Homo sapiens: one gene and its partners. The protein of the gene in region 1 purifies or fractionates together with the protein of each later gene. This does not show direct contact. Each region holds a gene or a part of one and is shown on either strand. Other genes may lie near its edges. The genes, in order: TRPC3, ORAI2, SEC24A and ORAI3.

The links.
Region 2: the proteins of TRPC3 (region 1) and ORAI2 purify together in Homo sapiens (co-immunoprecipitation; one study listed by IntAct). This does not show direct contact.
Region 3: the proteins of TRPC3 (region 1) and SEC24A purify together in Homo sapiens (affinity purification with mass spectrometry; one large-scale study listed by BioGRID and IntAct). This does not show direct contact.
Region 4: the proteins of TRPC3 (region 1) and ORAI3 purify together in Homo sapiens (co-immunoprecipitation; one study listed by IntAct). This does not show direct contact.

The regions. Positions count from the first base shown.
Region 1 is NC_000004.12:121,906,653-121,911,513, forward strand, and holds part of TRPC3 (short transient receptor potential channel 3), read right to left. Parts: intron 3,736-4,861; coding exon 3,502-3,735; intron 916-3,501; coding exon 651-915; intron 1-650. UniProt on the Homo sapiens protein: Forms a receptor-activated non-selective calcium permeant cation channel.
Region 2 is NC_000007.14:102,431,795-102,437,177, forward strand, and holds the start of ORAI2 (protein orai-2), read left to right. Parts: upstream 1-1,780; 5' UTR 1,781-1,867; intron 1,868-4,407; exon of another isoform or gene 4,408-4,430; 5' UTR 4,431-4,539; intron 4,540-5,383. UniProt on the Homo sapiens protein: Pore-forming subunit of inward rectifying Ca(2+) release-activated Ca(2+) (CRAC) channels.
Region 3 is NC_000005.10:134,654,846-134,659,706, forward strand, and holds part of SEC24A (protein transport protein Sec24A), read left to right. Parts: intron 1-4,861. UniProt on the Homo sapiens protein: Component of the coat protein complex II (COPII) which promotes the formation of transport vesicles from the endoplasmic reticulum (ER).
Region 4 is NC_000016.10:30,947,436-30,952,890, forward strand, and holds the start of ORAI3 (protein orai-3), read left to right. Parts: upstream 1-1,632; 5' UTR 1,633-1,854; coding exon 1,855-2,082; intron 2,083-5,455.

The DNA of each region.
Region 1 (4,861 bases):
CACCTGGAAGAACTGCAGTAGAAGGGGGGCCCTATATTCATGACAACCAAACACCACTGGGTGAGAACAGATCTCACAATCTGGGTGTCTCCATGCTGCAGGAACTTGAAGGGAAAATGACTAAGGAAACTTGATCAAGGAAGACTTCATGGAAGAGGTGAGTCTCCAGTGTAGAAACCAGTATGGCCAAAGGAAGAAACTGGTATTACCATGATAGTGGGCTATAAAATGTTTAGCTATAACTTCCTCTTACTCGACTTCCTGTACCGATCAATGAATATATTAAAATAAAAGCTGATGCTTCCTTTTTGAAAGAAGAGTACTGGCTACAAAATGATGAAACTAATTTTAATGTTATACATAATGTAAGAGACATCCAGTATTAGAAATCTGTTATCCTGTTTTCTTAAAATAGCCAGTTTTGTCTAGGGTTTTTCCAAATTCTGACCCATTCTGTGGTCAAACTCTCACTAAGCTCAGAGATGAGCCTTCAGAGCAATATAATCAACACAAGCACTAACTGTTTTTGATGGATTATTTTCTGTGCTTAAAAACATCTTTATTACAATCAGAGAAATTTTTCCTTTGCTTCCTCTAGATTGGTTAGAATTTCTCTTTATCATACCTGTATAATAAGATATTTTACTTACGTGGTAAAAGCAGCATTAACTTTAGCCCCAAGGTAGTAAGAATAAAGTATGAACATGCCAATCATAAAGGCAAAAAACACCATAATAAAGAGGACCATGAACTTGAATATGTCCTTTACAGTCCTTCCAAGAGAGATCTGCAGGGGGCCAAAGCTCTCATTTGCAGGGAGGATGTACGCAATCCGAGAGAAGCTGAGCACAACAGCTATGGCATAAAGGCCTTCAGATATAATCTGAGGGTCAGAAGGGAGCCATTTATCTCTAGCTAGAAAAAAGAGAGAAAGAGATTAAAAATGGAGCTTTCTATTCATTGCCAACTACGCAAAGCAAATACCTTAAATAGGATCTATCTTGTAGGTAGGTGGTTACCATCTCAGTTGAAACTAATCTAGATTTAATTAACTGTCCAGGGACTATTTTCATCTTAAACCAGAAACGTAAATTCTATATTACTTTAGATGGAGGGTACACTATTATAAAGATACTAAGCTGACTCCACATTCAGCAGAAACAGAATAAAATACAAAACATGGAGAGGTTAAAACACTTCGTTAGACACAGACTGTATCCAGGATGACAAAACAACTGACTTGACTGATTTGTCCCTTCAGTCATTAGATTTACTGACCAGTTATTTTGTCATCCTATAGGCACAGCCGGAGTGTAACTTCTTTTCCATATCTTGTGGGAAAATTAGTTCATCCAACAATTCATGCAAATAAAATATTTCGAGGAGTGAGAATGTCACTGAATCACAATGGTGCTGACGATGTGTTATCTCAGCAATATAACTTGTCCCCGAAAAATGTAAAATGCCACTGAAGTAAAAGAATTTTGGATATAGATTCAGAATGAGGACCCCTAACAACCCTTTCAAGGTCACTTATTAAGTCTGCAGCAGACCTGTCAGGTCAATGAAATATTATGTGGTTAATTGTGCAAACTTGCAGACATCTGCAATAACAACAAAACTTAACATTTGTTGATCAGTTCAGCCACTGTGGAAAGCACTTTGAAGATTTCTCAAAGAACTTAAAACAGAACTACCATTCAACCCAGCAATTCCATTAGTGGGTATATATCCAAATGAAAACATATTGTTTTACCAAAAGACACATGCACTTGCATCTTCATTGCAGCACTATTCACAATAGCTAAGATACGGAATCAACCTAGGTGCTCATCAACAGTGGACTGGATACAGAAAATGTGGTACATATACTCCATGGAATACTATGCAGCCACAAAAAAGAACAAAAATCATGTCCTTTGCAGCAACATGAATGCAGCTGGAGGCCATTATCCTAAGTGAATTAATGCAGGAATAGAAAACCAAATACAGCAGGTTTTCACTTATAAGTGGAAGCTAAATAGTGGGTATTCATGGACATAAACATAGCAACAATGAAACTGGAAAACTACTAGAGGGAGGAGGAAAGGGTTGAAAAACATCTATTGGGTATATGCTCAGTACCCAGGTAATGAGGTCATTCCTAGCCCTAAACCTCAGAATCATGCAATATGCTCAGGTAACAAACCTGCACATGTGCCCTCTGAATCTAAAAAAAAGTTTAAAAAATTAACATTTCTTGACTATTTAATATGTGTCAGACACTGCTTTCAATGATCCTATGGATTTGATATTATTATCCTCTCTTTAGAGATGCAGAAACCAGACTTAGAAAGATTAAAAATTGATCAAAACAATACATATAGGAGATAGGGAAGCCTGAATCCATCCCTTCCAGACAACAGTCATCAAATATACATAAATAAATTTCAATAAATAGGTTATGAAATGGTCAAGATACCTAAAATACAATCTAAAATTAATTCTTTAATTACAAATGGTGATCATTTGCTCATTTGAACAAGTCTCCTTGGTATATAAAAGTCTTTGCTTGCTGAGAATAACAGAGGTGCTTAATTACATCTTATATTTTGGAGCGGAAGTCCAGCCTTCAATAACATTAACATGCTCCTTGTACTCATCACAATGTGCCCTAATTACACCTATAAAAAAGTATTCTTCACAACCAGATCACAGTTAAACTCTGTGCCTGAGTTCCCTTACCTGTAAGATGAAGATTAGACAACACTTTCTAAAGTATTTTCCAGATTTCAGATTTTACAACTATATCCAAATTTGCTAACTGTGGCTCCTCAATTTGGCCTCAAGGGAAGGGAGGCTAACATTACTTACCATTGGTTTGTACGGGGCAAGGAAGGCATCAATGTTCTTTCACACCGGATGTCAGCTGAGGTCTCACTGCTCTTCATAATATAGAGATATTTGACATGAACCCCATTCCATGCCATGTGAACAGGACAACATCCTCCCAAAATATTTCTGCTGGTTCTCCAGAGCTTACATTCTCACGGTCACTTTAGAACCTACTTCCTGCCTCTGTTGAATTACCGTTCACTTTGCCTGCAGAGCAGTTTGGCAACTTTTATTATCTTATCTCCTTGAACCCATGCTCTCAGGGACTTACCTTCCACATCAAGCAGTTTATCAAACTATTTTTTCCCTAATTAAGACAGTCTCCCAATAGTAATTATCTTATAGGCTTAAAGGTAATTTTCTTCCACCTTGCAATATTGTCTTTTTATAGCTATGAAAACTGAGGCACAGTGAAGCAAATTGACTTGAACAAGTTTACACAGCAAAGGGGGTCAGAGCCTTGAAATGAATCCAGTTTTGTAGGTTCCAAAGTTCATGCTTTCTCCACTGTCCATAAATATTCAATACACCTCTCATACTAAACATACTCCAATTGGCATTTCCTTCCAAAATGTGGTTCCAATACCTTTCCCAAAACACAAGGGGACCCTGAAGCTAACAACTTACCATAAGTGAAATACTGTATCTCTGGTGGGAGTGTCACTTCACTGAGGTCACTCTCTTGGACGTAACTGTCCACATACTGTTGTGCCTTCGTTGCCTGAAGGAAAGCTAGGAATCTGGCTGTGAAAGCAGCAATGAAGATGGACAGCATCCCAAAGTCAAGCACATTCCACAACTGCAAAATGTATTCCCTAGGTCCTTCCAGCCAGAGCTCTTTACATTCAGACCACATCATTCCTGTCACAACAAATACAGAGGGTGCAGGTCAGATTTTACAGGCCAGACTGAGAAGCCATTATTGTGTCCACCATCAGGTCACATCTCTACCCTACACGTCAAGCACAGTACTAGGCATCACAAAGCATTGACTGACTGACTGTATGGTCACTGAGGCCCTGTGCAGAGTTAAATGGAAGAAGCTCCTGCTAAGAAAATAATTCACCCCACCACACTAGAATTTGGAGAAGCGGTCCACATGTGGCACCAGAGATGTCTCTATTCATGAGAGGAGGTGGTGGAGGGGGGTGAGGAGAAGAAAGAAGGAAAGGAAATAAGGAGAGAAGGCTCTTCAAGTTATCCCATAAGACTTTTGGAGAAGAAAATATGTTCTATACAATCACAATGGTTAGTTATCAAACCATAGTGATTATTGGAGAAATAAGTCCACAAGATTTTTAACAAGAAGAACAGTTTCCCAATGATACTCATATCACACTCTTATCCTCTCTTCTCATTTCCATGTCATGCTAAAAAGTGAGCAATATCGTTTGAAAAAGATGAAACCCTTAAGTGAGAGGTCCTAGGACATTCTGAAGAAACTGAAAGCAGAAAATGCCATTCTGGGACAAGAGGACAAAATAGTACAACTTAACAACTTAACAAATTGTCCAACTTAACAAATTGTCCTGACTACATAAAGGGAAAATACTGTAGAATTTTTAAAAAATGTAATGGCTTAAAAGAAAATGTATAAAATAATTACTTGACCTAGGCTGAGGCCACAGGAGTGAATGGGAGGAAGAACTAACCTACTAACTCCGAAAATGAGAAGACACCAAGACTCACATTGGATAAAACAAATACAAAAATGACTTCGGATTAATCAGAAATAAACAACCTGGTTCCAATCTCCATTTCTTAGCAGAGAACACAATAAATTCTTTTCCTCACATTACTTCAAATTCTTATTTTAACACAGCTATTCAAAATGGGTTATTGTAAGACGAAATAGGTTGGTGCAAAAGTAATTGCAGTTTTTGCCATTTTAAAAATAGTAAAAACCACAGTTATTTTTGTACCCAACCTAATAACAAACATTCTGAAAATGAAAACTCTCCTAAAATCTCTGGAACTAAAACAACAA
Region 2 (5,383 bases), on another chromosome or scaffold:
GGTCCAATGCTGTTGTGACAGATGGAAAAATCCTATGTAGGGCACGCAGCAGCCTACCCGGCATGGAGGAAGGACTCCAAGGGACCGTCTGGCACCGCCGGGCTGATAGGAACCCATCTTGTCTGTCTGTGAATTATTCATGTGCTGCACTTCCTGAAAAGAATGCTCCTGTTTGACTGCCTCGCTCGTAAAACCGCAGAGAATTCACCGTTAAAGGTGAGAGGCTCCCTGCAGTAGGGAGTGGAAGGGGCCAGGGCACAGCAGAAACTCTTTGCTGCTGTCTGCGAACAGCATGAGAAGGACAGCACGCTGCACTGAAGTTGGGACCCCAGGGGTCTCGCTGGGTCTGTGAGTGGCAGTGCACTCTGGGTGGCAACCCCCAATTAGCTCAGTGCAAGCTCTTCATGGTGCCATCCAACACCCTGGGCAGGGGCCAAGCAAGGTGGCCCATGCCTCTATGCCCAGCACTTTGGGAGGCTGAGGTGGGAGGATCACTTGAGCCCAGGAGTTCGAGACCAGCAGAGGCAACATAGCAAGACCCATCTCAATTTTTTTAAAAAATTTAAAAATTAGCTGGACATTGTGGCACATGCCTGTAATCCCAGTGCTTTGAGAGGCTAAGAGAGGATTGCTTGAGGCCAGGAGTTTAAGACCAGTCTGGGCAATACAGGAAGACTCTATCTCTAAAAAAAGAATTTTTTTTTTTTTTTTTGGCTGGGCACAGTGGCTCACATGTATCATCCCAGCACTTTGGGAGGCCGAGGCAGGCAGGATCACCTGAGGTCAGGAGTTCAAGACCAGTCCGGCCAACATGGTGAAACCCCATCTCTACTAAACATACAAAAAAGTAGCCAGGCTAGTGGCGTGCACCTGTAGCTCGGAGGCTGAGACAGGAGAATCGTTTCAACCCCGGGGTCGGGGGTTGCAGTGAGCCAAGATGGCACCACTGCACTCCAGCCTGGGTGACAGGGCAAAACTCCCTCTCAAAAAACAAACAAAAACAAATTTTTTAAAAACTACCACGGTGTGGTGGCTCCTGCCTACATGTAGCCTCAGCACTTTGGGTGACTGAGGGCAGAGGATCACTCGAGCTCAGGAATTCGAGGCTGCATTGAACCGTGATCGCACCACTGCAGTCCAGCCTGGGCGACAGAGCCAGACCCTGTCTCAAAAAAATAAAAAAAAAAATCCTGTGAAAACTCGGGCGTGGCCAGACGGATTCTCCCCTCCCCACCTTCCTTTCCCCTCCACTGCCCACCTGCACCCGCCCGCCCTGTCCCCACTCCCCGCCCCTCTACGCAGCCAGCGTCCAATGCTGGGCACCCCCCGAGGCTCACCCTGCCAAGCCTGGGGCTCCCCTTTTGCGCCCGGACCCAGGGGCAGGGAAAGCCCAGCTCGTGGTCTGTGGGTAGCCGGACCCCCGATGGGGCGGTGGGGGGCCTCGCCTTGACTCCCAGAGCTGGGGCCGGGGACAGGAGCTGGGGCAGGAGGGATGCGCGCGGGTCGGGGTCTTCCCACCTCCCCTGCTCCTCTCCCTCGCGCGATCCCGGGGTGGTTCCAGGTGAGGCGGGGACCCCCACCCCCCCACTCTCCGAGGAGGCGCCGCCAGCCCCGCCCCTCCCGGCCCGGCGGGTGACGTGGCCGCGGCTCTCCCGCGGGTGGGTCACGTGTTGGCGGCGCCTGGTTGCCTTGGCAGCGGCTGCGGCGGCCGCGGGGGCGGGGTGGAGGCGGGGCCGGGGGACCCCGCGCGACCGGCGGAAGGAGGGAGGGGGCCGCGCTCGGCGCCCCGGCCGGGCCACTGGGCCACAGGCCACGCGGCCACGCAGTCCGAGCGGGAGCCGAGCCGGGCGGGGCGAGGGCAGCTCCGGTGAGTGTGGCGGCGCGGGGGCCTGGCGCGGGGAGCGGGGTCCCTGCGGCTGGGGGGGCCGGAATTGGACCGGGGACGCTCGGCGGGGAAGGGGACGACTGTAGGCTGCCCGGGCGCGGTCACTACCCATCCGGGGTTGGTGACCTCCACCCCGCGGGATCCCTGGCGGGGTGCGGCGCCCAGAGGATCAGGGTCGGCGGCGCAGCCGGTTCCGGACACCGGGGCGTCCCTGGGGGAGGGACAGGGATGCAGCCTAGCGCCCCTGGGAGGCCCCCTCCCAGTGCGCCTGCTGGAGAGAGACACTCGCCATTGCCGGTGCCCCAGATGCTTAGAGGAAGTCAAACTCCAAGACCGCCCTCTGGAAATGTGTCCAGTAGGCCAGCCAGGAAGAAAAGCTCATCTCTAGAGAGGGGATCGCGTTATTCTACAAGACCTGTTTTCTCGGACTGCTCATTAAAGCAAAAAAAAAAAAAAAAAAAAAAAAGCAACCCCACAAGGTTCAGTCCCGGAGCATCCTCTAGGGTCTGTGCCACCTGACAGAAGTACAGGGCTCCATCCTGCCCCACCCCACCCCCTGCCTGGGATCCAGTGTGAGGCCCAGACTCTGTCCCTCCCCCTGGGCCACCGGGCCTGGCACACACAGTTGGCATTGGGAACATAAAGGATGGATTTGAACCCCCTCCTGGGCTGCTCCTTCGAGACCTGGAGACCTGTCTCAAGACCCAGCTCCAGGCAGACAGACATCGTTTCCTCCACAATCCCACCCACTCTGGGGACATCTGCAGGGCCTCACCGATGGGGCATGGGAGGCCTGGCGGCTCCCAGGAAGCCACCCTCAGCCCTCACTGCCCTGAGCTCTTCACCTCCACTCTCAGACCTGAGCCCAGCCCACCCTTACTGATGGGGCATCCCTCTTGTTCACCCTTCCTTCCTTTGGAGGCCACCAGGCTCTCCCTTGCGTCCCACTCCTGCCAGTCGGCCAGCCATTTCCCTGGGTTGAACTGTGGTCCCAAACCAGAATGATCTAGCAGTGCCCAGACCGTTCCACTCACCAATTTCTTCCATTCTCCTGTGGCTGGACGCCCAGTCATGCTGCCCAGACCCTCTGGCTCATTCCACAGCCCCAGGCTCCAAGTGTCTTCCACCCACATCTCCCTGCCCCCTCCACCCCCCAGGTGGCAGCCAGTCTTCCCTCCATATCTCCTGGACAAGGAGAGCCACCCCACATGTACACCTGGAGTGGCCTTCCCGTCTCTCGGAATCCTTCCATGCAGGCAGCATCTTGTCTTTGAGGAAAGGTCCCTCTTTTTTAAAATTCTTTTTAGAGGCCAGGCGCAGTGGTTCATGCCTATAATCTCAGCACTTTGGGAGGCCAAGGTGGGCGGATCACTTGAGCTCAGGAGTTCTAGACCAGCCTGGCCAACATAGCAAAACCCTGTCTCTACCAAAAATACCAAAAATTAGCCAGGTATGGTGGCACACACATGTAGTCCCAGCTACTCGGGTGGTTGAGGCGGGAGGATCGCTTGAGCCTGGGAGGTAGAATTTGCAGGGAGCTGAGATTGTGCCACTGCACTCCAGCCTTGGTAACACAGCAGGACCCCATGTCAAAAAAAATTATTTTTAGAGACAGCGTCTTACTCTGTTGCCTAGGCTGGTCTCCAGCTCCTGGCCGCAGGTGATCCTCCCACCTTGGCCTCACAAAACACTGGGATTACAGGCATGAGGCACTTTGGCATGCAAAGGGCCGCTCTGTCCCCTCCCCGGTGTTACCTGCAAGCACCTTTTCCTGGCCTTGGTGTGAGGCAGCCAGTCCTCTGCTCCCTGCCCTCCATTGAAGCCTTTAGCTCAGTGGATGAGGATTGCCCCCCCCTCTTTTTTTTTTTTTTTTTTGAGATGGAGTCTCGCTCTGTTGCCCAGGCTGGAGTGCAGTGGTGTGCTCTTGGCTCACTGCAACCTCTGCCACCACACCCAGCTATTTTTTTTTTTTTAAGACAGAGTCTCACTGTGTCACCCAGGCTGGAGTGCCGCGGTAGGATCTCAGCTCACTGCAACCTCCGCCTCCTGGGATCAGGCAATTCTCCTGCCTCAGCCTCCTGAGTAGCTGGGATTACAGGCGCCCACCACCATGCCCAGTTACTTTTTGTATTTTTAGAAGAGACAGGTTTCCACCATGTTGTCCAGGCTAGTCTCGAACTCCTGACCTCTAGTGATCCGCCCACCTCAGCCTCCCAAAGATGACAGGTGTGAGCTACTGCTCCTGACCCACATCCCCTTACCTTGCTCCCCTACTGGGAGGCCATGAATTCTGGCCTCTTTCATCTTGGATCTTTAAGTACCAAGTGCGCTAAGCACCTGTGTGATGGAGGAGGGAGGACGGAGGGAGCAAAGGTTAGCGTCTCACCCCTCCAGTCTCTGTATACTGCGGTCATCAGACCTGCATGCTCAATTCTGTTAACTATGGGGGTGGGGGGAGAGGAAAAATGCAGTTTCCAAATTACAGCATTTTCTATTATGTGGAGCTAACCTACGGATTGCAGCGTTTCTCTGAATTCTCCCCAAGGGAAGGAACGTCCCAGGGATGGAAGTGCTTGGATGCGGTGCTGCTGGCTGCGGATGTGCGCAAGGAGATGGGATGGAGAGCCTGAGTTGGCATTCGTATAAATGACCTGGTAATTGGCATCCCCTGGCAGAAATAGCACAGAACTGTTCCCAGAGGTCTTGTTGGCCAGGGAAGGCTGTGGCTTTGTAGCCTTGTTGAGAACAAAGGGAAAGGCGACACTGTTTTCCACCTCCAGCACCTTCCTGCGTAATTTCCAAATTGGGGCATTTTCAATTATGGGGGGCTCGACTCTGGCATGGATGGACTAAGTTTGGGGCATTTCCTCAGCTGCTGACCCTGTTAAGCACTCCCCACTCCACCCGTCCACCCCAGCCACGCTCCCTGGGACCTAGAAACACGGATCTGTGTGTAACAGCCTGACATAGACTTTCCGTGGGGCCTATGTGGGCCTGGACATAGAAGTTACTCTTTTCGTTTCTTTTTTTTCTTTTCTTTTCTTTTTTTGAGACGGAATCCTGCTCTGTCACCCAGGCTGGAGTGCAGTGGCGCAATCTTGGCTCACTGCAACCTCCGCCTTCTGGGTTCAAGCGATTCTCTTGCCTCAGCCTCCCGAGTAGCCGGGATTACAGGAGCCCGCCACCACACCTGGCTAATTTTTGTATTTTTAGTGGAGACAGGGTTTCACCATGTTGGCCAGGCTGGAAAAGTCACTCTTTTTGATGTCAAGTAAACCACAAGATGCCTGTGCCCTTGAAGCACGCCCTGCAGATTAATTAGAACTGGATCCTGGCGTGTGGCCGAGCAGCCCAGCTCCTTGGGACACACGCGACCGCCAATCCCCTACTTAGTGGAGATTTGGGTTTAAATTCACAAATCTTGACAGATCTGTCCTTCTGATGTTTAATCCGTGTTAGTCAAACCAGATGTTTACCAGGTGTGAGTCCAGGCATCTC
Region 3 (4,861 bases), on another chromosome or scaffold:
AGCTGGGATTACAGGTGTGCGTCACCATGCTTGTCTAATTTTTTTGTGTCTTTAGTAGAGATGGGTTTCACCATTTGGCCAGGCTGGTCTCGAACTCCTGACCTCGTGATCCTCCCACCTTGGCCTCCCAAAGTGCTGGGATTACAGGTGTGAACCACTACGCCTGGCCCAGGCTTTCCTAAAGAAACGTACAGCTTTTTGGCCAGGCTGGTCTCAAAATCCTGACCTCAGGTGATCTGCCCGCCTGAGCCAAAGTGCTGAGATTACAGGTGTGAGCCACCGCACCCGGCCACATGAGATTTTTTACTAATGCAGATTCTGGGATCCTTTTGAATCCTATGAAATAGGATTTTACAAAGGTGGGACCTGGGATCTCAATTTGTACCATTATTATAGCAGGTTCCTCTGATTCTGAAGCTGCTGGTTGGGTGGGAAGCACTCATCTGCATTCATTCTTGCCTCTAACTTTCTAATTTAGCTTCTTTACCCACACATCCCAAAATTGTCCTTAATAAGGCCACAAGGCTGGGCGTGGTGGCTCATGCCTGTAATCCCAGCACTTTGGGAGGTCAAGGCGGGTGGATCACAAGGTCCGGAGTTCAAGACCAGCCTGGCCAACATGGTGAAACCTTGTCTCTACTAAAAATACAAAAATTAGCCGGGTGTGGTGGCGTGCGCCTGTAATCCCAGCTACTCAGGAGGCCTCAGCCTCCTGAGTGATTCTCAGCAGGAGAATCACTTGAACCCGAGAGGTGGAGGTTGCAGTGAGCCGAGATCATGACATTGCACTGCAGCCTGGGCGACAGAGCAAGAATTCATCTCAAAATAAATAAATAAATAAATAAGGCCACAAATGGCTTCCTGGTTATTAAATAGAAAAATATTTTTCAGTTCTCATTTTCCGAGCTGCATTTGATACCTTTGGCTGTTATTTTGTTTTTACAACAATTGCTTTCTTTGGTTTCTAGGATATCACCAGAAGGGTAGTTATGGTTTTCTTTCTTTTTTTTGGTTGCTATTTCTCAACAGCAGTATTCTCAATATTTCTTCCATTTCTGATTGTTTTTTTCTCTCTCCTCCTTAAATATTGGTGTTCTTCAAGGTGACCTATTTTTCTTACTCTTATATACTCCCTGGGTGTCTTTAATTCCCATGGTTTTAAATCTTATGCATAGATCAGTGACTCCCATAATTATATCTTAAGGTGAAATCTGTCACTTTGGCTGCAGCTAAATATCTTTTTTTTTTTTTTTTTAAGACAGAGTCTTGCTCTGTTGCCCAGGCTGGAGTGAGGTGGCACGATCTTGGCTCACTGCAACCTTTGCCTCCTGGGTTCAAGCGATTCTCCTTTCTCAGCCTCCGGAGTAGCTGGGACCACCGGCATGTGCCACCACACCCGGCAAATTTTTTGTATTTTTAGAAGAGATGGGGTTTCACCGTCTTAGGATGGTGTTGCTCTCCTGACCTCATGATCTGCCCGCCTTGACCTCCCAAAGTGCTGGGATTACAGGCCTGAGCCACCGCGCCCAGCGCAGATAAATATCTTTATACTGGACATCTCCACTTAGATTTCTTGGTGGCACCTGAAAATTAGTGTGTTTAAAATAACTCTTCGATCTCTCTTCCCTTTGCCATTCCCCACCTTTGTTTTTTTGAGACAGAGTCTTGCTCTGTCAACCAGGCTGGAGTGCAGTGGCACGATATCCGCTCATTGCAACCTCCGCCTCCCAGGTTCAAGCAATTCTCCTGCCTCAGCCTCTGAGTAGCTGGGACTATAGGCGTGTGCCACCATGCCCGGCTAATTTTTGTATTTTAGTAGAGACGGGGTTTCACCGTGTTGGTCAGGCTGGTCTCGAACTTCTGACTTCAGGTGATCCACCCACCTCGGCCTCCCAAAGTGTTGGGATTACAGGCATGAGCCACTGCATCCGACTTTTTTTTTTTTTTTTTTTTTAAAGACAGCTCTCATTCTGTCGCCCTGGCCGGAATGCAATGATGCAATGATAGCTCACTGCAGCCTTGAACTCCTGGGCTCAAGTAATCCTTGATCCTTGATCAAGTGGGTGGAGTGGCTCATGCTTGTAATCTTAGTACTTTGGGAGGTCGAGTCAAGAAGATCCCTTGAGCCCAGGAGTTCGAGACCAGCCTGGACAACTTAGGGAGACCCCATCTCTACAAAAAAATTTAAAAATTAGCCAGGCATAATGGTGCACGCCTGTAGGCCCAGCTACTCAAGAGGGGAGGTGGGAGGATCGCTTGAGCTTGGGAGGTCGAGGCTGCGGTGAGCTGTGACACTTCAGCCTGGGTGGCAGAGCGAGACCTCATTTCTGAAAAACGCACACACACACACACACACACACACACACACAACCAAAACTTATATTTTGTAGAGATAGGGACTTGCTATTGCCCAGGCTGGTCTCAAACTCCTGGCCTCAAGTGATCCTCCCACCTTGACTTTCTAAAGTGCTGGGATTGCAGGCATGAGCCACCGTGCCTGGCCTACATTTCTATTCTTTTCTCTTTCTGTTCAAATGAATAAACACGGCCATCCACCAGGTTGCTCAGGTCAGAAACCTAGGAGTCATCCTAGATTTTTTCCTCTCTTCATCACCCATATTCAATTCCACATAAAATCCCATGAATGCTGTTTCCTCAAATCAGTTTTTAAAAATTTGAGTAATGTATAGATACTAAATATTTCTCTGCTGTCCCAATGTTAAATTATTTATTTATTTATTTTACTTCTGACACAGGTTCTCACTCTGTTGCCCAGGCTAGAGTGCAGGGGCATGATCACAGCCCACTGCAGGCTTGATCTCTTGGGTTCAAGTGATCCTCCCGCCTCAGCCTCCCAAGTAGCTGGGAATATAGGCACGTGCCACCACAACTGGCTAATTATTTATTTTTTTGTAGAGACGAGGTCTCACTATATTACCCAGGTTATTCTTGAACTCCTGAGGTCAAGCCGTGCTCCCACCTTGGCTTTTCAAAGTGCTCGGATTACAAGATCAAGCCAACATGCCTGGCAAAAATTATTTTTATTAAATGTGTATATGCAAACACAAAACTAGATGTAAACTTCATAGGGTTATAGCTATTGTACTATTGTAAAACCAAACATTAAAAATATCAACATATGGCTGGGCATGGTGGCTCACGCCTGTAATCCCAGCACTTTGGGAGGCTGAGGTGGCCAGATCACTTGAGGTCAGAAGTTCAAGAACAGCCTGGCCAACATGGTGAAATCCCGTCTCTACTAAAAATACAAAATTAGCCAGCGTGGTGGTGCACACCTGTAATCCTAGCTACTCGAGAGGCTGAATGAGGCAGGAGAATCGCCTGAACCCAGGAGGCGGAGGTTGCAGTGAGCCGAGATCGCACCACTGCACTTTAGCTTGGGCAACAGAGCGAGACTCTGTCTCAAAAAAAAATCAAAAGCAATATAATTCAATTTTAAAACATTAAACAATATGCTACATTTTGTTTGAAACCACAGTTGATTTGATTGTTTTAATTTTGAATATGTTGGAACATTACTTGGGTGACTATCATGCTCACTTTTTCCTTTTTGTTTTTGAGACACGTTCTCACTCTGTAGCCCAGGGTGGAATGCCTAATTATAGCTCACTGAAGTCAAACTCCTGGGCTCAAGCAGTCCTCTTGCCTCAGCCTCCTGAGAAGCTAGATCTACAGGCATGTGCCACAACTCCTGGCTAATTTTTTAATTTTTAATTTTTTTGTGTGGAAATGGAGTCTCGCTGTGTTGCCCAGGCTGGTCTCCTACTCCTGAGCTCAAGTAGTTCTGCTTTGGCCTCCCAGTGTGATGGGATTACAGGCATGAGCCACCATGCCCAACCTCTACACGATTTTAATAGGGGAAGAATGGGGTGGGGGAGAGGACATTTACTGGAAAACAGACGACTTATAGGAAGGATAAATGGGCTTTTAGAATAGATATGATAGTTTTGTGATGATATCTGTTTAGGTGTGGTGTGGAAATTTCTCATCTCAGGTCATGAGTCAGATTGACATCTTTCCTGGTTGCCCCTGGGAAGTAGATTATGACAATTGAGTTCTTTTGGAAGGCTCTGTTTTAGGCAGATAAGAGATTTTAGGAACTCAAATGCCTTCTGCTTAAAATAATTTTTATGCCATAGTAGCGTATTCTGGACCCCTTCACAATCACTGACCCATTTATTTTTATTTATTTATTTATTTATTTATTTATTTATTTATTTATTGAGATGGAATCTTGCTCTGTCACCCAGGCTGGAGTGCAGTGGCGCGATGTTGGCTCACTGCAAGCTCTGCCTCCTGGGTTCACGCCATTCTCCTGCCTCAGCCTCCCGAGTAGCTGGGACTACAGGCACCCGCCACCACGCTCCACTAATTTTTTTGTATTTTTAGTAGAGATGGGGTTTCACCATGTTAGCCAGGATGGTCTTGATCTCCTGACCTCGTGATCCGCCCGCCTTGGCCTCCCAAAGTGCTGGGATTATAGGCGTGAGCCACCGCGCCTGGCCTCACAGACCCATTATTTTGATGGGCTACTTAGTAATGACTTCAGAATTTAAAAAAATTATCCATTTAGTGAAGGTGTCATTATATATTTATTACTACACTTTTTGTGAACTACTTGTAATTGATCCATATATGATTTTCACATAGTGGGGAGGGATGTCAGAAAAAAAAATTTTCATGTAATAGTTACTCACAATAGGTCTATGATGGTGACTACCACAAAACAAGTTCTTTTGTATCTGTCTTCCTGCCAGTTGGCCTTATGACCTCATATTCTTTTTTTTTTTTTTTTTTTTGAGACAGGATACAGGGTCTCACTTTGTCACAGAGGCTGGAG
Region 4 (5,455 bases), on another chromosome or scaffold:
CCTGCCCCTGCTACCTGCTTCATTGTCCATCCCCTGGGGGAGTGGGTCAGAGGTACTGGAGGGTGCTGAGCCGAAGGGACGGTGGGAGGGGGGTTATGGTGCAAGTGTTGGGGGGGAGAATGGGGAAAGGACACACACAGGATATGGGAGCCAGGGGCTGGGGGAGGTGGAAGGGGCGGGGGGCGGGGCAGACAGCAGACCACCAAGGGTTCAGGGAACAAAGACCAGTTACTTGGAGTGGGGGGTGGGGGTGGGGCCACAAAAGGAAAACCGGAGGAGCAATTGGGGATCCAGGTGTCAGAGGTAGGGGAACCAGGGGCAAGCTGGGGCTGAGCTGGAGGTGGGGATGAGAGCAGGTGTGGGGACAGCAATACCCCCTTGGGGGTCACCTCTCTGCTTCCCCCCTCCCCAGGCTTCAGTTCCTTCCCCCTGACCCTGACTCCTTGAACGTCACTGAAAACGGCAGCTATTGCAAGGAGTGGGGGCCGCGGGCAGCCGCTCTTCAGCTCGCGGCCCAGGGGAGTGGCGAGGGGCGCCCCAACCCCCTGCCCGCCTCTCCGCACAATACTTGAACATTCATCTGTACTGAAGTGTTACTTGAACCGGGGGAATCTCGGACCTGGGGGAGCCGGGGTGTGAGGGGACTGGACCAGCTTGGACTGAGACCTGAGACCGGGCCGGTGGGCGCCCATTTGGGACTGCGCCACCCCCAGGCTTGTTCTTGTTTTACTGTATTGAGCGGCGGCACCCGCCGGACCCGCATTATGGCTGGGGGCGCCAGCCCAAGAATGGGGACCATGGGACTCCTCCAGCCTGGCTCTTCCCACTCTTTCATCGTCATGGAAACTTGTATCCCATTTGCCCAGGGAACTGCCACTCCTGGTTGCCATGGAAATAGCAGCCAACGGACACCTCCCGATGCCAGTGCTAAGGCTGGAAATGGCCCCCTCTTAGTTGCCATGGGAACCTAGTAACAGACTCTGCTGGCCCTCCTTCCCTGCCCCTTCCTCGAGCGCGGGGTGGGGCTTCGGGACCCCGGGGATGAGCCGGGCCAGGTCCCGCCCCTCCGCGCAGGCCTCCGGGGGGCCGGGGCTTACCATGTAGGGGAGGGGAGATCTATCCACATACCTCAGGTAACAGGGAGGTGCGCGGGTGGGGGGAGGGCTGGGCGGACCAAAGGCCGGAGGGGTGGGGCCTGGGGATAGCGAGAGGCTTGAGAATGGGGCCGCTTGGGGGAGGGAAGAGGCAGCCCGGCGAGGGGCAAGCGGGGGACCCAGCCGGGCTGGGCCCCTGGGCCCCGGGTCTGTACAATACGGTTTGCTATAAAACTCAAAATCTTCCAGCCGGGGCTGCGGAGTTCGTGTGTGTATCTGCGGGGTCCCTACCTACAGATGAGTGGGCTCACCTCTCCTGGACTCATTTTGGGAGGGATTTGGAAGTGTGGACACCTGGGGTGTCCAGCTGTACCTTGGAGGGGGCTGGGGTTGGCGTGCACCTCGGTGGGGTCCGGGCGCTTGGATAACGTTCTTGGTGGGTAGGGGTCGCGGGGAATCTCTGCGGGCCCGGGACTGCGGGGACTTGGTCCCCGGCTCCACCCCATCATGTGGCTAGCCCCGGCTCCGCCTCTGTCCCAGTTCCTGTTTTGGCCTCCGCTGTCCCGCTCCGGCTCCTGGGGCTCCCCGCAGACGCTGCTTTTCTTGCTCCACTGGGGGTGCCTCTTCCTGGGCGCCCGCCGCCTGCATCCTGCTCGTCCTGTCTGGGAATGGGGCCGCCCCCGGGCTTGGGCCGGCCCGGCTGGGGCCCCCGAGGCGCTTCCGCCCCGTAGTGACCGCCTGGTGCCGCCCCCCCCCCAGGATGAAGGGCGGCGAGGGGGACGCGGGCGAGCAGGCCCCGCTGAACCCTGAGGGCGAGAGCCCTGCAGGCTCGGCCACGTACCGGGAGTTCGTGCACCGCGGCTACCTGGACCTCATGGGGGCCAGTCAGCACTCGCTGCGGGCGCTCAGCTGGCGCCGCCTCTACCTCAGCCGGGCCAAGCTCAAAGCTTCCAGCCGCACGTCTGCCTTGCTCTCGGGCTTCGCCATGGTGAGGGGCCGGGAGGGGTCACACCCGGTGGGGCAGAGCAAGTGGGGGGCACAGGTCGGGGGGGGGGCGAAGTAAACAGGTCCCAAGGGAGACAGGTTAAAGGGGGCTTTCGTCAAAGGGGGAAGGAACAAGGTCCCGCGGGACTGAGCAAGTCCCTTCTTACGGATGTGTGTGTACAGGGGACCCCAGGAGACGGGGCCACCGGAGGACACGAAAGTCCTAAAGGTGTCGTAGTGGGAGTGGGGTGAACAAATCGCTGGTGGGGTTGACTGCAACAGTGAGGCAGAGTGGTCCAGATGGAGCCTGTACCTGGCAGAAGTGGTTCCTAAGTCCCAGTGCCAGCTTCAAAGGCAGGTCAGCTGGGTGGGGGCTGCATCAACAGGTGGGGGGCTCGAGATGGATTAGCTGGGTGGAAGGGTCACCCAGCTGAAGGTGGGCCCGTCCCAGGGAAGGTGGCCACTCTCCAGCGGGCCCAAGGGGTGCTAGTGTCAACCAGGAAAACTGACAAGAGATCATGCCCGGGAGGGAACCGCTGGGGAAGGAGGCTGATGAGGAAACTGATAAGCGAGTCTCAAGCTGATAAACCCCAGGTGCAGGAGGACGGTGTTGGCTAACGGTCTGCCCCAGCAGTGGCCTCACAGGAAGTGGGATGGAGGGAGGTCCCAGGGTGAGGATCAGCAGACACAGTCCTGGCTCCTCCCTGCTTGTGGCCAGCTGTGTGACCCTGGACAGGCCTCCACCCCGCTTGCAAGCCAGTGGGAAACTGAGATCATGGAGGGTGCGCCCTCTGTAGCCAGCCAAGTAACCGCCCCAGGGTGAGCCAGGCATGTCAGAGCAGGTCACGTACCAAGGATGGCTCAGACTAGCCTGCTAATTGGACAGGTGTGGAAAGTAAAAGCCTTGCCTCTGGGCAGGAGCGAATGAACTGGGACCCAGGGTTGCTGCTCTGTTAGTCTGGGGTTGCCCCACCATCACCCCAGGAAAAAGGAGAAAGTGAGCTGCAGGAGGTACTTTGGGGAACGCACTCCTGTGGGGGTGGATATCAGAGGCGGTTGGGGTGGGGACCATGGCGCTAGGGGATCTGGGCTAGTCCCTGCCCTGTCTGTGCCACAACCTCCATATTTGAACAATGACAGGGAAACTCTCTAACCCTAAGGGTCATCATAAGCCTATGGTCTTCTATGTGGGGTCCCAGAATCCACAGACCAGCTTACCTTTCATGATGGGGGCATCACCTAGGGACAGGATGTTGGCTCCCCTTCATCTGCACAGCCTGCAGAGGGAAGGGAGCAGCCACCCAAGCTGAGGGAGGTCAACCCCATGGTCCAGCCTGTTCCCAAGGAGACAATCCCTCCACGGCAGAATATGCAGGTGCAGGTTGCTGGGGTGACAGCTTAAGGGCCCGAGCCTTCTCTGCAGGAGGAAGGGGCTGGAGGTTTAGGTTCCGGGGGCAGGACTGGCCGCAGTCCTAGCAGGGGTGACCGAGGCTGGGCCAGGCTCTGGGAGAAACCAGGACTAAGCCTGGCCCAGATCCCTGTCTGTGGAAAACACCTCCTGACACCTGCCATGGCCCAATTTCCCAAAATACTCAGCCCTGTTTTCCTACCTCCACCCGCCAGCCTCTACACCTACCTTCTTCTTTCCCCAGGCCCAGAGCAATCGAATGGACCCTACAAGAACCAGGGATGGGGAGAGAGTGGGCTTCTGAAACTCAGGTGGCCTAAGTTAGAATAGCATTATACAAATTGTATCCAGCTGTCACTAAGCACCAGGCACTGCCCTCAGTGCCTTTATATACATCATCTGTTAGCCTACAAAGTGGGTACTGCTACTCTGGCCATTTTACAGATGAGGAAACTGAGGATCAGAGATGTTAAGACACCTGCCCAAGGTCCCACAGCAAGTAAGTGGCAGGATTTGAGCCTAAGCCGTCTGGTTCCAGACTCCAAATTTATAAATTCCTAGAATAGGGTCATCAACTCAAATGTTTGCAAAGGGCCAGGCAGGTAATATGGATGCCAAATTGGCTGGGTAGGGACTAGCAAGCAAGAGACCCCATGACATTGGGGGTGATGGCTCACACCTTTCATCCCAGCACTTTGGGAGGCCAAGGCAGGAGGATCGCTTGAGCCTAGGAGCCCAGGAGTTCGAGTCCAGCCAGCCTGGGCAACATAGCAAGACCTGGCATCTACCAAAAAAAAAAAAAGAGAGACCCCATGACCTTTCCAAGGGGAGCAGCCATGACTGATTTGAGCTGATAGTTGCCATGCAGGAACGCAGGCCAAGTGTGGCTAGTTCTTCCAAGTTTTCAAGGGGATCTGGAAATAGGGATATAAGAAATCTCTTCAGTTTTACAAGTTGGCAGCATCTTCCATTTTTTAAGAAACACACTGTGTGAGCCAAGCAAAACACGTCTGCAAGCTGGCAGTGGTCCACAGTGTGCCGATTTGTAAACTCTGTCCTCAGACTTTAGCATTCACTATAGCAAGAACAGCAAACACATACCTAGTGCTTACTCTGTGCCTGGCACTGTTCTTTTTCTTTTTCTTCCTTTTCCTTTTCCTTTCCTTTCCTCTTTCTTTTTCTTTCTTTCTTTTCTTTCTTATCTTTCTTTTTTTTTTTTTTTTGAGACAGAGTCCCACACTGTCACCCAGGCTGGAGTGCAGTGGTGCGATCTCGGCTCACTGCAACCTCTGCCTCCTGGGTTCAAGCAATTCTCCTGCCTTAGCCTCCCAAGCTCCTGAGTAGCCGGGATTACAGGCGCACACCACCACGCCCGGCTAATTTTTATATTTTTAGTAGAGACAGGGTTTCACCATGTTGGCCAGGCTGGTCTTGAACTCCTGACCTCAGGTGATCCGCCCAACTCGGCCTCCCAAAGTGTTGGGATGAAAGGCGTGAGCCACCACTCCCAGCCCATTTCATGTATATTTCATTTAATGTTTATACCAACCCTATAAGGCAGGGAGGTGCTGTTATCAATCTCTATTTCCAGATAGGAAATTGAGGCACACAGAGAACTGACTTGCTCAAGATTACACAGCTAGAGCAGAGAATGATCCCAGGCAGCCCAGCTCCAGAATCTGCTGTTTGATCCCTATGCAGTAAACCTGTTAGAAGCATGTCATCCAGCCCTTTTTTTTATTTTTATTTTTAATTTTTTTTTGAGACAGAGTCTTGCTCTGTTGCCCAGGCTGGAGTGCAGTCACATGATCTCGGCTCACTCAAACTTCTGCCTCCTGGGTTCAAGCAGTTCTCCTGCCTCAGCCTCTCAAGTAGCAGGGATTACAGGCATGTGCCACGATGCCCGGCTAATTTTTGTACTTTTAGTAGAGACGGGGTTTCGCCATGTTGGCCAGGTTGGTCTCAAACT